Linked DNA regions of Homo sapiens. The protein of the gene in region 1 purifies or fractionates together with the protein of each later gene. This does not show direct contact. Each region holds a gene or a part of one and is shown on either strand. Other genes may lie near its edges.

Region 1 (8,741 bases):
CCACCGCGCCCAGCCTACTTAACCTTTCTGAGTCCTCTGTTTCTAATGAGATAAAGGGGATGATGGGATTTAAGTACTTCCTGAGGGGAGTTGAAAGGACCAAATGAGATAATGGATGCAAAAACACTGAACTAGAAAGTAACCAATGCTTCCATTTCCCCCACTGAGGTTAAGAGGAGGGACTCTGGAACCAGGCAGCCTGGACCTTCTACTCCAGGGCTGTCACTTACTGGCTCTGTGTTCCTTTGGCAAGCGGCCAAACATCTCTATGCCTTGGTTTCCTCATCTGCAGCATAGGCATACTGGGTTTGTGAAGATTAAATAAATGGGTTAACCATGAAAAATGCTTGGTATTGGGCCAGGCACGGTGGCTCACACCTGTAATCTCAGCACCTTGGGAGCCCGAGGCCGGCGGATTGCCTGAGCTAAAGAGTTCAAGACCAGCCTGGGCAACATGATGAAACCCTGCCTCTACTAAAATTCAAAAAATTAGCTGCGCATGGTGGTGGGCACCTGTAATTCCAGCTACTCAGGAGGCTGAGGCACAAGAATTGCTTGAACCCAGGAGGCGGAGGTTGCAGTGAGCCGAGATTGCATCACTGCACTCCAGCCTGGGTGACAGAGCAAGACTCTGTCTCAAAAATAAATAAATAAATAAATAAAAATAAACGCTTGGTATCCCAGAACTATATCTGTTCCATTTTGTAAGAAGATTTTCATTTTCAAATAATTTCAGATTTACAGAAGTGTGGCAAGAATAGTATCAAAAAAATCTTATTTTTTGAATATTCTTCACCAGGATTCACTAACTTTTTAACATTTTATTGAGGTAGAATTCCCATACCATTAAGTTCAGCCATTTAAAGTCTATAAGCCAGGCTTGGTGGCTCACACCTGTAATCCCAGCACTTTGGGAGGCTGAGGCAGGTGGATCACTTGAGCTCAGGAGTTGGAGACCAGACTGGGCAACATGGCAAGACCCTGTCTCTATTAAAAAATAAAAAATAAATTAAGTGTACAGTCTAATTTTTTTCAGATTCACAAATTTTGAAACATTTACTTTTATCTTTCTTTCTCTCTTTTTTTTTTTGAGGGGGGACGAAGTCTCGCTCTGTCACCCAGGCTGGAGTGCAGTGGTACAATATTGGCTCACTGCAATCTCTGCCTCCCAGGTTCAAGTGATTCTCCTGCCTCAGCCTCCCAAGTAGCTGGTATTACAGGCGCCCACCACCACACCTGGCTAATTTTTATATTTTTAGTAGAGACAGAGTTTCACCATGTTGGCCAGGCTGGTCTCGAACTCCCGACCTCAAAAGATCCACCTGTCTCAGCCTCCCAAAGTGCTGGGATTATAGGCGTGAGCCACCATGCCTGGCCTATATTGTGTTTCTTAAGAACAACATCATTATCTTACACAACCATGATGCAATTGTAAAATTCAAGAATTATTTCTAAAATATAGTCCATATTTGGTTTTTTTTTTTTTTGAGCTAGGGTCTCACTCTGGCTGCCCAGGCTGGAGTGCAGTGATGCGATCTTGGCTGACTGCAGCCTCTGCCTCCCTAGTTCAAGCAGTTCTGCCTCAGCCTCCTGAGTATCTGGGATTACAGGCGCCTGCCACCATACCCAGTTAATTTTTGTATTTTCAGTAGAGACGGGGTTTTGCCATGTTGGCCTGGCTGGTCTCGAACTCCTGACCTCAGGTGATCCACCACCACCCCTGCCTCCCAAAGTGTAGGGATTACAGGCGTGAGCCACTGTGCCGGTATAGAATGCCCTTCATAGCAACATTTCCCCCAATCCAGGAACCAACCCAGGATCACTTGTTGCCTGTTGTTTTTTAGACAGAGTCTTGTTCTGTCGCCCAGGCTGGAGTGCAGTGGCATGATGTCAGCTCACCTCAACCTCTGCCTCCCAAGTTCAAGTGATTTTCATGCCTCAGCCTCGTGAGTAGCTGGGACTACAGGCATGTGCTACCACGCCAAGCTAATTTTTGTATTATTATTATTTTTTAATAAAGACAGGGTTTCACCATGATGGCCAGGCTGGTCTTGAACTCCTGGCCTCAGGTGATCCACCCGCCTCAGCCTCCCAAAGTACTGGGATTACAGGTGTGAGCCACTGCGCCCGGCCTAGTTTTCTTTCTTTCTTTCTTTCTTTTTTTTTTTTTTGAGACAGAGTCTCACTCTGTCGCTCAGGTTGGAGTGCAGTGGCGATCTCAGCTCACTGCAAGCTCCGCCTCCCAGGTTCACGCCGTTCTCCTGCCTCAGCCTCCCAAGTAGCTGGGTCTACAGGCACCTGCCACCATGCCCGGCTAATTTTTTTAGTAGAGACGGGGTTTCACTATGTTGGCCAGGATGGTCTTGATCTCCTGACCTCGTGATCCACCCACCTTGGCCTCCCAAAGTGCTGGGATTATAGGCATGAGCCACTGCACCCGGCCCTCTTTTTTTTTTTTTTTTTTTTTTTGAGACGGAGTCTTGCTCTGTTGTCCAAGCTGGAGTGCAGTGGCACCATCTCGGCTTACTGCAAGCTCTGCCTCCATTCTTCTGCCCCAGCCTCCTGAGTAGCTGAGACTACAGGCGCCTACCACCACATCCGGCTAATGTTTTGTATTTTTAGTAGAGATGGGGTTTCACCATGTTAGCCAGGATGGTCTCGATCTCCTGACTTCAAGATCTGCCCGCCTTGGCCTCCCAAAGTGCTGGGATTACAGGTGTGACCCACCGCACCCAGCCAGTATAGTTTTCTTTAATCTGGAAGGCTTCCTCAGCCTTTCTTGAATTTTCCAGAGACTGACATTTAGGCAGAGTACAGGACAGCTATTCTGTAGACTGTCTGTCCCTCAGTGTGCGTTTGTGTGATTGTTCCTCATGATTAGTTTCCGGTTTTGCATTATTATAATTATGGTTCTTGTTGTTGAGATGAGAATGATAATAGCAGCTATCTAACAGGATTGTTGTCAGGACTCAATTGATCATGTGAAAAGCACAGAACAATGCTGGTATGTAGCAAGTGCCCCATAAAGGAAGACTGTTGTTGTTGCCGTTGTTAATATAGAGGGTGTGGCTGGGCTCAGTGACTCACGCCTATAATCCCAGCACTTTGAGAGGCTGAGGCAAGTGGATCACTTGAGGCCAGGAGTTTCAGACCAGCCTGGGCAACATAATAAGACCCTGTTTCTACAAAAAAATTAAAAAAAATTAGTGGGGTATGATGGCACGTGCCTGTAGCCCTAGTTACTGAGGAGGCTAGGCTGGGGGCTCGCTTGAGCCCAGGGTAGAGGTGAACTATGTTCACACCACTGCACTTCAGCCTGGGTGACAGAGCGAGAACCAGTCTCTAAAATTTAAAAAAAAAAAAACAAAAAAAAAGGAGAGTGGGCGGGCCTACAAACAATGTTAGAGAAGTTGAGAAGGAGAATCACTGCCCTTCATATAGCCCCTAAGGAAGGCTGGCATAACACCAGGAGAGAGCCTGAGCTTTGCATAGGGTAGACACAGGGCTGCTGAGGTCCTTTCTGCAGAGGTGCCCAGGGCTGAGAGTTATGGAGCATTCAAGGGTCTTGACACTGGCTCTCCATGCTGATCCAACCAGGACCCGCCTCTCTGACTGGGTGCATTGCCTGAGTCCCTCTAGCTCCTCTTCCTTTTCTCTCTCCCCAAACCAGGTACTTCAAAGGCTCATCAAGTCCCGAGGAAAGTCTCAGTCCAAACACCTCAATGTCCAAATAGCGGCCTCGGAAAAGCTGGCACAGTGCCCCCCTGTGAGTGCCTAGATCCCAGGGAAGGGAATGGAGGGAGAACATTTGGGTTGTCCTGGTTTCCTCTGGCCTACATGAGAGACAGGGTGACCAGGAACACCTGGGTCAGGCCTGTGGGTGCAGACTGGTCTTCTGGGAAGAGCGCAGGTCCCGTCAGTCAAAGACTGGGTTCAAGCCCCAGAAGCACCCTTCTGCGTGGAGAGTCAAGCCCTGTCTCCCAGCCTTGGTTGCCTTATCTCTAGAATGAGGGAGTTGGACTGAGTGCCAAAACTTCTTGCAGTTCTGCCAATCTGTAGATCTGAGAGCTCTCCTTCCCTTCTACATCCAGAGGCCTCTTTTTAACCTTGTCCTTCAATCCCTTGACTCTACCCACTGCACCCAGGCCACACCCTCAACCCCCTTGGCCATGCCCCACTCATCCCAGCCCTGCCCCCTAACCCCGCCTTCACAGGAAATGTTTGACATCATCCTGGATGAGAACCAATTGGAGGATGCCTGCGAGCATCTGGCGGAGTACTTGGAAGCCTATTGGAAGGCCACACACCCGCCCAGCAGCACGCCACCCAATCCGCTGCTGAACCGCACCATGGCTACCGCAGCCCTGGCTGCCAGCCCTGCCCCTGTCTCCAACCTCCAGGTACAGGTGCTCACCTCGCTCAGGAGAAACCTCGGCTTCTGGGGCGGGCTGGAGTCCTCACAGCGGGGCAGTGTGGTGCCCCAGGAGCAGGAACATGCCATGTAGTGGGCGCCCTGCCCGTCTTCCCTCCTGCTCTGGGGTCGGAACTGGAGTGCAGGGAACATGGAGGAGGAAGGGAAGAGCTTTATTTTGTAAAAAAATAAGATGAGCGGCAGCTTCTGGTGTCTGTGGTTTTTGATGGGTCTGGGGCTTCTGGTGCTGTCTTCCTGGGCCTGGTGCCATAGGAGCGCATCTGCTGCCCGCTGGATATGAGGCCTGATGGGAGCGCTTTTAAGACAAGGGACTAGGAAGGACATGCGAGGAAGACTGATAAACTGATTCGCTGGACTCCACACCCTTTTTAGACCCAACAGAGCAGGGGCCTTCAGAGCCAGGGAAACCTACGTTAAACCTGGACTCTCCCTCCCTGGAGCCCTGACTCCACAAGGCCCCTCAAGAGGGACCAAGAATGTGGCATCTTCTATGACTTGATGCTGAACCTTCCACCATTCTCCCAGTTAAAGTCCAGGAAAGGACCTCCCATGGGAGACCCATCCTGCCTTGCCCTCCTCCCATGGGAGCCACAGCCCACCTCTTGATGGCACACCATTAAGTATAAGGTCTTAAGAGCCAGAAGAAACCCATGAAATCATTCTAGACTGTAGCTTTCAAATTTGTTTTCAGCAACAGAGCCCATTTGTTCAATGAATCTTACGTGGAAGCTGAGGATGTTAGATAATGCATCCTTGCTCTGCCCTGAGGGAGCCAGGGGAATGGCCTCCCCTCCACCTCCATGGGGACCCCTGAAGCACTTCTGTGCCCTTCCCACCCAATGCCACCCCAGATCTCTAGGTAACAGTTTGGAAACTGCTACTCAGGTCTAACCCCCATCACATTACAACCAAGAAATGAGGCCACAGAGAGGGGAACTGTTTGCTTAGGGTCACACAGCTTGACATGGCAGGGGAGGGACTGGAACCCCTCTTGTGCCCCACCTCCACGTGACATTTGATGATAAGGACACTGGGCCACCTCTTCATCTTCAGTAGGAGGGGGAGACCCAGCAGCCTTCCCCAGCTTGCTGCTTTGAGTGCTTGTTGGGGGCAAGGGAGGAATCCCATCAGCCTTGGAGATGGTGTCATCCGACTAGGGAATGGTGGGAGAAGCATGGGGTTCTGGAAGCCTGAGATTGGGGTTTGGTGTGGGTCGAAGAAGCCAGGGTCAGCAGGTTTGAGCTGAAATCCCGTTAATATATTTGGAAAACCAAAGGCAATGACTAACCGAATCAACCGCTAATGAGTGGCAATACTGAGCTGTTAATGACAGTTAGCCCCAAGATAGCATTAATGACCTGCACTGAGGAAGCGGTGACTCATGGCTCACGGCTGTTGGCCATAGTTGCCCTGAGAGTTCATATGTCCTCACATCTGTTGAAGGTCGGGTGCCCCCTGTCCCGAGAGAGGAGCAAATGCCCTGAGGTCTGTCCTCTGGCTGGGCTCCAGAGCCGTTTGTCCCCGGGGCCCCTCCTCTAGAGCCAGCACCCTCTTCATCCAGGCCGGACCTCTTAATGCTGTCACTAACTTGCCTTGCTTTGTTGTGTTTTTCTCACCCCTGCCTGATCTGCATGGTGTGTGCTGTCCGTCTGCTAACCAGGGACCCTACCTTGCTTCCGGGGACCAGCCACTGGAACGGGCCACCGGGGAGCACGCCAGCATGCACGAGTACCCAGGGGAGCTGGGCCAGCCCCCAGGCCTTTACCCCAGCAGCCACCCACCAGGCCGGGCAGGCACGCTACGGGCACTGTCCCGCCAAGACACTTTTGATGCCGACACCCCCGGCAGCCGAAACTCTGCCTACACGGAGCTGGGAGACTCATGTGTGGACATGGAGACTGACCCCTCAGAGGGGCCAGGGCTTGGAGACCCTGCAGGGGGCGGCACGCCCCCAGCCCGACAGGGATCCTGGGAGGACGAGGAAGAAGACTATGAGGAAGAGCTGACCGACAACCGGAACCGGGGCCGGAATAAGGCCCGCTACTGCGCTGAGGGTGGGGGTCCAGTTTTGGGGCGCAACAAGAATGAGCTGGAGGGCTGGGGACGAGGCGTCTACATTCGCTGAGAGGCAGGGGCCACACGGCGGGAGGAAGGGCTCTGAGCCCAGGGGAGGGGAGGGAGCGAGGGGCTCACACCTGACATGTATTCGCCTCCAGGGGGCGCTGTCTCCCTCCTTTCAGATGCCTTTGCTCAAAGCTTGGGGTTTCTTTGGTGTTACCATCCCAGCTCCCGGGAGGCCCTTAAGCCCCAGCTGTCGGTTTTTACCTGCCTGTTGTGGATGGATGGGGGATACCCACCTTTCTGAAGTGTCCCCTTTCTCCCATCTTAAGGGGCTCTCCTCCCTCACCCTCCTAGAGAAAAGGTGCACTTCCTTAACTCTTTCTACTCGGGGCCCTAAGTGACGGTCCTAAGTGGGATGGCTCTCCTTCTCCCAAGCTGCAGTACTGGGGAAGGGCTGGGCGCTTTTCCTGGAAAGGGAGGCCACAGATTCTTTCCCATGGGGGCTCTCTTCCCCAGACCCCAGATCCAAGGTCCCTCACCCTGCCTGCCCCTTCCTCCCAGCTTCCTGGCAGCATCGTCTGGTCGGTGAAAGCCATAGCATGGACACCCCATGGGGAGCTTGTCTTGGGGAGGGTTCTGGGTGGAAGCTGGCAGGCATACAGCACCCTCTACCCTCCGTGGCCATGGCAACGTCCAGGGCCCAGAACCCTGAGGAGTGAGCGGCCGAGACGCTGCTCCCCACCCCCCACCTCCATGCCTCAGCCTTTGCCTACCCCAGGAATGAGCTTGGCCTCCAACATCCCTTGCCTGCTGCCATTAGTAGAGGGGGCCCCTCTGCATCTGAGCCCCCCATCCCTGTGCCACCTGGGTGTGGAGCCCATGGAACACTCTGGTCCGCCTCATTTTAAACCAAAAAACTGCTCCTTCACCCTCACCCTGAGGCCCCAGGGGAGAGGACCCGTGGGATGGTGCCCAGGGGTTGCCTTGGGACCTCGGATCTCCTCTGGGGGGCTTGGCTGCTGCTGTTGCTGCTCTGTATTTGCCTCTCGTGATTCTGTTTGTTACCCATGTTCACTTCCCCCAGGAGAGGCCTTGGTACCCCCTCTCCCCTGGGGCATCCCTTTGCCTTGGCATCCCTGTAGCCCAGCAACCCTGCCCCTCCCCAGCATCCCAGCTGGGCCAGAGAGAGCCGAGTGTGCCAACAAGGACTGGGGCCTGCCCGGCTGCCCGCCTCAGGGATGGGCACCTCATGCCTGTCTCGCCACCTCCTGTGCCAATGTCCCACCCTCCACCTGGGGGTGGGGTGCAGCTTCCACTTACTGATTAGAAGACACCACTGCCCTCCCTTCCCCCCTCCCTGTCTGGTGTCCTGTGCCCCCATCTGTCTGTCTATATTTGTCTGTACTCCCCTAGGAGAAGTATTTTGCCATATATAAAACCACTGTCCTGTCCTTTGTGGCTGCCTCCCAAGCCTGCTTCTTTGTCCTCGCCACATAGTCGTCAGCGTAGGCACCTGGGAGCTGCTGATATGCACGGGGAGTTGAAAGGGTGGGTGCCTGAAGATGTTGTGCCCTGAGTCATTGACTCAAAAGAAAAGATGATCCTTTGATTTTGGCCCTCTGATGTATTGTGCCCAAGCCAGGAGCTGCTTGGGCAGTCCCAGCTCCACACTGGCCCTGAGCCCCTTCACTTACCTGTCTCTCCACAAGTAGAGCCAAAGGCAATGGGAAGCTCAATGTTGCTCAGTGGGTGAGATCCAGACCCACTGGTGCAATGTCTTAAATACACATGACTGTTTTTCTGCTCTTGTGGCATCACTGTGCCCCAACACCTCAGGAGAGGGAGGGGCTGAGCTTCTGGCTCCACTAATGCCCCCCTCGTTCCTGCTAACCAGCTTTGGGGACAGGGAGGCAGACTACTTGTGGGGGCAGGTCAGAGAAAATCAGGGATTCTGCCAGTCCCAGACTGAAAGTCAGCAGGTGAGTGTACCCATTCCTCCCATCCCCAGCTGGCAGGATGTGGACTTCTGACAGTTACTGCAACCACCTGTGTCCTGCCTCACACAGTACCCTCAAACTATTTCCCCTCCCTCCTGGTTCTTTTTCTTTTTTTTTTTTTGAGATGGAGTTTTGCTCTTGTCGCCCAGGCTGAAGAGTGCAGTGGCGCGATCTCGGTTCACTGCAACCTCCGCCTCCCAGGTTCAAGTGATTCTCCTGCCTCAGCCTCCCGAGTAGCTGGGACTACAGGC
Region 2 (8,048 bases), on another chromosome or scaffold:
ATAGTCAGTTTTACCTTCAGTAGTGGTTCTTGCAGCAATGGCAAGAGTTTGCCTCACCAGTAATACTGGGGGATGGAATGCCAGGCAAACAAGCTTGAAATCTGGGGGCCTTGAAAACTGGGGGGATTGAGCCTTCTATGTAAAGTCAGTGTAATTGCAGCATAGGGTATAAGAGATGGCAGGAAAAGACTCTGGAAGAATAGAGACCAGGGGTTAGAAGACCAGTGCAGGCATCCAAGCAAGAAATCACTTTTGCCCAAACTAAGGTAATATTGAACATGGAGAAAAGAGACAGGGTTTTAGAGTGATTTCACAGTCAGTGTCAATGGGGAGATAGAGTTCAGTTCGGGGTTATTAACTCTAAGGTACCTGTAAAACAACCAGGTGGATATAGCTAGTAGTAGGTAGAAATTCAGGACTGAAGTTTGGAGAACTTGGTCAAGATTTAGAGATTTTTTTTTTGTCATCTATATATAAGCTAATAATTAAAACCATTTATCTAACAAATGACAGGATTTTAATGAACTCAGCAAAGATTTGAATATTATCTACAAGGTACCACAAGGGATTGGCTGCCTTATACAAAGAGGAATAATTTTGTATTTTACCTCAAGGTGCTTATCAAGAAAGCCAAAATCATAAAAAGACAGACTTGTGGAATTTTGGCGGCTTCCTCTTGAAACTAGAACAAAAACTCTGTTCTAGGTACTTGAGTAGGTTGTTCTGAGGGGCATGTGGGTATACATGTAAGTTCCTGGTGTTCCCATATTAGATATTACTGACTCTCAGTCCAGTTCTGTTTGCATCCCATTCTGCGGCATCCCACAGTTATATGGTGCTGTGAATTATTGCACTGGGGTTGTTAGGGTAGAGAAAACTGAAACAATGAGTCATCCTTGCCTTTCACTTTCCTAAATTGCCCACAAGCTAATGTCCCAAACTCAGTATTTTTCCCTTACAGATCATTCTGAGTATTGCTGCTGTAACAATTTTCCTAAGTTGTTACTGTTATAACATTATTACTCTAACTCTTATTTCTAGTCTTGCTCTGAACTTTTTAACAGTTTTTTGTTGCCTCCTTAACTATAGCTCCTCTATATGGCTTTCAATCCCTTCTCTGATATAGCTCAACTCTTCCTACCCAACTGTTTCCTGATACTACCCATTATAGACACTTTGCTTGTCAGATAAGTACATTATCTGTGTCTTGTATATAATCATACCATTTCCTTGCTCTTGCTTATGTTGCTATTTTTTCTTCCCACCCCTTAAATCATACATCCTTCAGAGTCTAGTTTAAATCTTGGTTCCGACTTGAAACATCCCTAATTTCTTACTTCTTCACTTTCTCAACAAAGATGAATCCTATGTGACAGGTGTTGTGGTGGGTGCATTACACACCTTCCAGTCTACAAGGTTAAGGTATTATCCCTATTGAGTGAGTGCTTGCTGTGTATGCTAAGCTTGTATTTGCATGCAATGTTTCACTTAAACTCTATGAGAACGTGTTATTTACATTTTACAGTGGCTAACTGTAAGTGGAGATGTGAAGTTTAAAGAGGTTAAGTAAATTCTCCAACATCATTCAGCTAATACATAATAAAGCTGACATTCGAATCCATTTGTGTTTGACTTATTATTGTTTCTAATAAGTGAAAACACAGTGTCTCACCTCAAAGACTCACAGTCTGGTAGAGGAGAAACATAGTACACAGACAGTCTTAATGCCTTGTGGTAAGTTCTGTGATGGAGCTAAGCCCACCGTCGTGTAGAAGCACATTAGGACGGGTGCTGATCTAGAATGAGAAGATGAGGAAGGGCTTCCGGGAGAAAATTCTGAGCTGAATCTTAAAGCAGTAGTCAAGAGTTCTGAGAAATGGGAAAGACTGAAAAACTGTCACTGATTGGAAGGTTCTGAGAAGATATGACAACTAAGGTGGTATGCTGGACTGGGGTCTAGGAACATAAAAAAGACATTAATGGAAAAAGTGAAGAGCTCCAAATAAATTATGTAGTCAATAGTCATGTACCAGTGTTAATATCTTAGTTTTGACTAACATGCTGTGCTTATGTAAAGTGCTAACATTTGTGGAAGCTAGGTGAAGCGTATGCAGGAACTCTGTAATTCTTCTGTAAATCTAAAATTATTTCAAAATTAAAAGTTAAAAAATAAGCTTACTCTTAGGAAATAAAAAAGAAGTAATTAGAAAACGTGTTCTATGTAGATAGCAGAGAGTGCAAAACCATGGAGAGAAAGTTGACTTTGAAGGGTTGCGTTTAAGTAATTGAAGCCATTGTTCTATGCTGAGAAACAAGAAGAGAGGATATTCCTTTTTTCTGAGGAAGCTTATCAGAATCAATTAGGGAAAGTTTTCTTGGCCAACAGTAGCCCCCTACCCACCACTGTCTCAAGGAAGCCATATCTAAAGGACCTCTTCATATTGATAGGGTGTGTCTGGGGGATGGGGGAAATTGTTGGAGTTATGAACTATTTTAATAGAGCACAGTGTTAAGTGAAAAAGTAGTTCAAGTTAGACTGGGATCAGACTACCAAAGCCTTAAGAATTTAGATCATTTCCTAAAGTCAGAGGGAAAACAGTGAAGGATTTTAGCTTTATCTGAGCAAGTAATATGGTCAAATTTGCAAAATTAGTCTGGTGTGACTGTGAAAGCTGCATTGAAGGACTGTACCTGGAGACTGTAGGAAGCCCTGAAGAGTGGCCCAGGCTGGAGATGTTAAGCTTCTGAACTGAAGTACTCATGGGAATGGAGAAGAGGCTCCAGCCAAAGGGCAGGTTATATATCGCAAATGCTTTGTTGCTCATACATTCTTGATCTTATACCATTTCATACAACCATGCCTCCTGGCTGACAGCACTTACAAGAGACCATTGATTATAAGATGCATTCTAATTTCAAAGAGATGAACAAGTGAAAATCAAGTGTCTTGAACTAATAAAATAGGATAGTAGTGGTCCCAGTTTGCAACAAATTTAGTGTGTTGTAATACAGTAGCTCTCCCTTGTCCACAGAGGATATGTTCCAGGACCCTCAGTGGATGCCTAGAACCACAGGTAATACCAGACACTCTATATAGTAAATGTTTTCCTATACATACATACCTATGATAAAGTTTAAGTTATAAATCAGGCACAGAGATTAACATCAATAACTAATAAAATAGAACAATTATAACAATATGTCAGCATCACTACCCTTATACTTTGGGGCCATTATTAAGTAAAATAAGGGTTACTTGAACATAAGTACTTCAGTACAGCAATAGTGGATAGGATAAACTAGACAGTTTCTACGTGACTAACGGGCAGGTGTGTCTACAGCAGAGAATGCTGGAAAAAGGAATGATTCATGTCTCAGGTGAGACAAGGGAATTCACTACTGAGAATGGCATACAATTTTAAACTTATGAATTGTTTCTGGAATTTTCCATTTAATATTTTCAGATTGATCTTGACTGTAGGTAATTAAAACCAGGGAAAGTGAAACCATAAATAAGAGAGTACTGCTATGAATATAATAGACACAGAGCAAATACTTTTTACTTGGAAGATACAAGAAGATTTATATTTCTGCGCCTTGTTCTGTGATAATATCGTGAAAGTAGTCAAACAGTGCCCCAAGTAGCTTAACCACTTTTAGTAATTTAGTAGCTGCTGCTACATGGAAGAAATCCACAAATCCAGAAAGACAAAGCAAAGCTAGCATTTCAGCAACAAGAAACAAAAATGGAATAAAGTCTTTGTATTTTTCTGTACAAAAGGCCCAGACCTCACCAACTGGAGCAGAACCTTTGACTTACCATTTGTAAGCTGGTGTTGCCAGTGAACCATGGAGATGTTGGGGACATGGAAAAACACTGCTGTTGGCAGTACTATTGAAGAGTAATAGTTGATAGTGACTAGTACAGTGTCTGCATCCATTTAATGAGCAGGCAACTTGGTTAAGCTGGCTGTTTTTGCAGGATAATTCCATTTATAGCCTCTGTCTACAAACAGTCAAGAGATATGATATTGGCATCATTAATCTTTTCTGAGTTAATAATCTCTTCTGAGTTAATGAACTGATTGGTCATAGATGTCCCCATAGACAAAAGGCACACAAATTTGAGTATACAATTCTTAAACTATACCAAAAGAAATGTCTGTTGCATTTTTATCATGGACAATAAAAAGATCCTACTACCTATTGAGTATGTGATATGGTTTGGCTGTGTCCCCACCCAAATCTCATTTTGAATTGTAGCTCCCATAATTTCCACATGTGGGAGGGACCCAATTGGAGATAACTGAATCATGGGGGCAGTTTCCCCTATACTGTTCTTGTGGTAGTGAATAAGTCTCACGAGAGCTGATGGATTTATAAAGGGGAGCTCTCCTGCACAAGTTGTTTTTGCCTGCCACCATGTAAGACATGCCTTTTGCCTTCCACCATGATTGTGAAGCCTCCCCAGCCACGTGGAACTGTGAGTCCATTAAATTTCTTTCCTTTATAAATTTGAAGAGGGAGATGGTAAGGTTTTGAATGAGATATGTAAAGCACCTAGGTGCTAGGCTCCCACCTGTAATCTCAGCATTTTGGGAGGCCCAGGCAGGCGTATCACTTGAGGCCAGGAGTTCAAGACCACTGAAACAATGATGAAAAATGTCTTTTTCAGCAGTGTGAAAACAGGCTAATACAGTATGTAAAACTTACTTTTCTTTCTTTTTTTTCCAGGTATATCTTCTGTGTCTCTGGAGACTTTGTTAAAGTTTACAGCACAGTTACAGAAGAGTGTGTACACATACTGCATGGACACAGAAATCTGGTGACTGGAATCCAGCTTAACCCCAACAACCATCTACAGGTGTCAAACAGTTTATAGCTGAATACTTTAAGACTGGCTTTGTTCTTGACAGAAAAATTTGAGTTGAATTTGACTGAGAAACTTTCCAGGTTATAAGTAAAATATTTGCTTATTTTCAGTTGTAGGGTATTTTCCACTTGCTAAATTACATTGCCTATAGCATATTCTGTGAACCATTTGTTCCACAGAATGCTAAGAGGTATTACCTGAGAAGGATATTCTTGGCTGTATGAGTTTCTGAAATTCAGGGCTAGGCACAGTTAAATGTATTTGTTGATTGTAATCTTTTTAGGTTCCCTTACATGCATTGCGAATATCCAAAAGAGGTATGTAGTTTTTGGTGTTTCTCAAACTTACTTGACTTGTGAACCATTTGGTGTCTGGAACACATTTTGAAAAATGTTGGCCAGGAGGTATTGATTTGGTAGATATGTTCCTTTAGAAGTAAGGCTCTGGCTTACTCTAGATATTGCCTAGTCTTAAGACCAGTGTCTAGATAAGAAAATTTGTTTGGTGAGTGGGTCAACTAGTTAGTTTCAAGACAAATTTGGGAATTTAATTTAGTCCAGATTTTCCCACGTCCCCCACAAAGCAGCCCTTCTTTCTTAGTATTTAAGAATAATGAAATGGTCATGTTAATTCTGTTCTTAAGTTTCGGCAAATCTACTAAAATTTTATCTCAACAATATTTTGTTCTTGCTCTTATTTTTAATCCAATTCCATTTTCCTGGATTAGTCACAGCCAACTTGGAAGTTATTGATTAAGGATGGATTTGCATTGCCATTCACTTTTATTCCAAAGGAAATAAAGTAGCACCGATCTTTTCTTTCCAAAATTAAATGAGCTACTTCTAAAAATCAAAGTTAAGTAACTTTTCTACGGGATCCAAGTACATATTTTATGCTTGCCGTCCTCTGAGGGTTTGACAAAAGTTTATCGCTGTGTGTAGTGTTTGAATGTTTTTAATAGCAAAACTATTATTTTGTTAAAATTGAAATTTGTGAAGTCCATATACTAAGTTTTATAGCCAAAAAAACGTATACACAATTCATAAAAGCTTTGTTTCGGATGACTGAAAGTGAGTAAAATTAGAGAAGGGCAGTTTTATCAGATTTGGTTGAGGTGCAGGGGCAGCAGTTCTGGACTTAGGAGTCACAGTGTTTGTGTATTAACCATTGTTTTGACAGTAATTATATGTTTGACTTGTTACATTTTACTAGTCCATATTTATGATTCTCATATGCAGTAATTGTGATATAAATTTCCTAGTTTGTATAATTTTTTGACTTGGATAGATAATATGGTTTTACTCCAACATTTTTACATTCCTCTTCTCTGAGTCCATGTCTCTATTTGCAGAAATCCTAAAATTGCCACTTTCTTTAAAAATATTAAAATTCTTTGTAAACATTATAAGCAAAGTATTTTCCTATAACAACGACAACAAAATCTAGCAGAAACTTAGTATTAATAAAACTAAGTACACTGGGACAAAAGTAAGCCTATGTGTTAGTAAGGTCTTCTGGTGCTACCAAAGTATGGTCCACAGACCAGTGTCCTAAACCATTAGTTACCATTCTGTATAAGAGTACAGAATGTGAGTGTCACAAAACACTTTGACATTGCCTCAGCATCCAAGCATATTATAATTTCTATTGTATTTTATGAAAGTATTGGTCCTTGATGGATTGGAAGAAATTTTTTTAAGCAGAATATTCTTCAGTCACTTGAGAAGCACTCCCTTAATGCTCATATAAGGTAAAAGGAGTTTGGCTAATAAAACTGAGTAAGCTGAGTTCTGGCAGGAAGAGCAACAAGCTCTTGTGTGGGTGTTTTTGTTTTGTTTTGTTTGGTTTTGGTTTTTTTTTCTGGAGAGTCTCACTCTGTCTCCCAGGCTGGAGTACAGCGATGTGATTGATCTCAGCTCACTGCAACCTCAGCCTCCCAAGTAGCTAGGATTACAGGGATGTGCCACCACGCCTGGCTAATTTTTGTAGGGGTTTCGTCATGTTGGCCAGGCTGGTCTCGAACTCCTGGCCTCAAGTGATGCACCCACCTGGGCCTCCCAAAGTGCTGAGATTACAGGTGGCAGCCACTGCACCTTGGTGCTTTTCATATCTCATTCAAAACCTTACCATCTCCCTCTTCAAGACAGAAAGTTGGCTTTTTTCCTCTCTCTTTTAGTTAAAACTTGAAATGGATGGATCTGCTTCTTGCAGAAAGCTGTGAAAAGATTGTTTTGCAGAAGCAATATAAATAAATGACTCTACCTCTTTAAGGTTAACAGTGAATTAATGAATAGAAAATGCCCCTGATCAACATTTAATTATTCATTTGATATCTTGATGAATTTCTTTTTTTTAAATCAATTTTGTATTGTTTTACCCTTTTAGCTGTATTCTTGTTCCCTTGATGGCACAATTAAACTGTGGGACTATATAGATGGCATCTTAATAAAGGTATGTGGATTGATCTTTACTTTTCGTTATGTGAATAAAAAAAGGCAATGTAATTTAATGGTAGATGTACTGTTTCTATAAGGCCAAATATTTAAATAGACTTCCTAAACAAGTTACAAAATAACATCAAAAAAATTAATTTGACTATATAAAAATTTTCCACTTATAAAAGACAAGGTAAAGCTGGAAGAAGATATTTACAAAAGATATTATTCCAAATATACAAAAATCTTCCCAAAAACCAATAAGGAAAAACTAATAGCCTGGTAGAAGAAATTGGCATAAAGTAGGAATATGTAAATTCACAGAAAAGAAATACAAATAGTCAATAAATATGAAGAGATGCTTAAACTCATTAATAAAGAAATCTAAATTAAAACAAATGACACAATATTTCCCCTCATAAATTTAGCCAAATTGTAGATTGAAAAAAAATCTAGTGATAGGTAAAGTATGGAGAAACAGGCACTTTTTTACCCAATGAGAGTTAAAACTGAAAATCAATAAACACGTTTTGCTACAGCAGTCTCACCTCGGAATAATGGCCTGTACACAAAGTCCTTATAGCATTGTTTATGGTAGGAAAAAAGTTAAATATGACCTTGATGTCAGTTAAAATTATGATACATTCAGTACAATACCATTTCAGATCTATATGTAGGAAACTCGAAAGAGTATTTAACAAATATGTATTAGTTGTCTTCTGTAGGCCAGGTACTCTCCT

The links. Proteins that work in one complex are often made in the same cells at the same time.
Region 2: the proteins of CACNB1 (region 1) and WDR75 purify together in Homo sapiens (affinity purification with mass spectrometry; 2 studies listed by BioGRID and IntAct, with this or other methods). This does not show direct contact.

What each region holds. Positions count from the first base shown.
Region 1 is NC_000017.11:39,173,009-39,181,749, reverse strand, and holds the end of CACNB1 (voltage-dependent L-type calcium channel subunit beta-1), read left to right. Parts: intron 1-3,670; coding exon 3,671-3,766; intron 3,767-4,214; coding exon 4,215-4,400; coding exon of another isoform or gene 4,401-4,505; exon of another isoform or gene 4,506-4,743; intron 4,744-5,790; exon of another isoform or gene 5,791-5,887; intron 5,888-6,092; coding exon 6,093-6,557; 3' UTR 6,558-8,297; downstream 8,298-8,741. UniProt on the Homo sapiens protein: Regulatory subunit of L-type calcium channels. Regulates the activity of L-type calcium channels that contain CACNA1A as pore-forming subunit.
Region 2 is NC_000002.12:189,443,645-189,451,692, forward strand, and holds part of WDR75 (WD repeat-containing protein 75), read left to right. Parts: intron 1-4,734; coding exon 4,735-4,864; intron 4,865-5,156; exon of another isoform or gene 5,157-5,166; coding exon of another isoform or gene 5,167-5,190; intron 5,191-7,258; coding exon 7,259-7,324; intron 7,325-8,048. UniProt on the Homo sapiens protein: Ribosome biogenesis factor. Part of the small subunit (SSU) processome, first precursor of the small eukaryotic ribosomal subunit.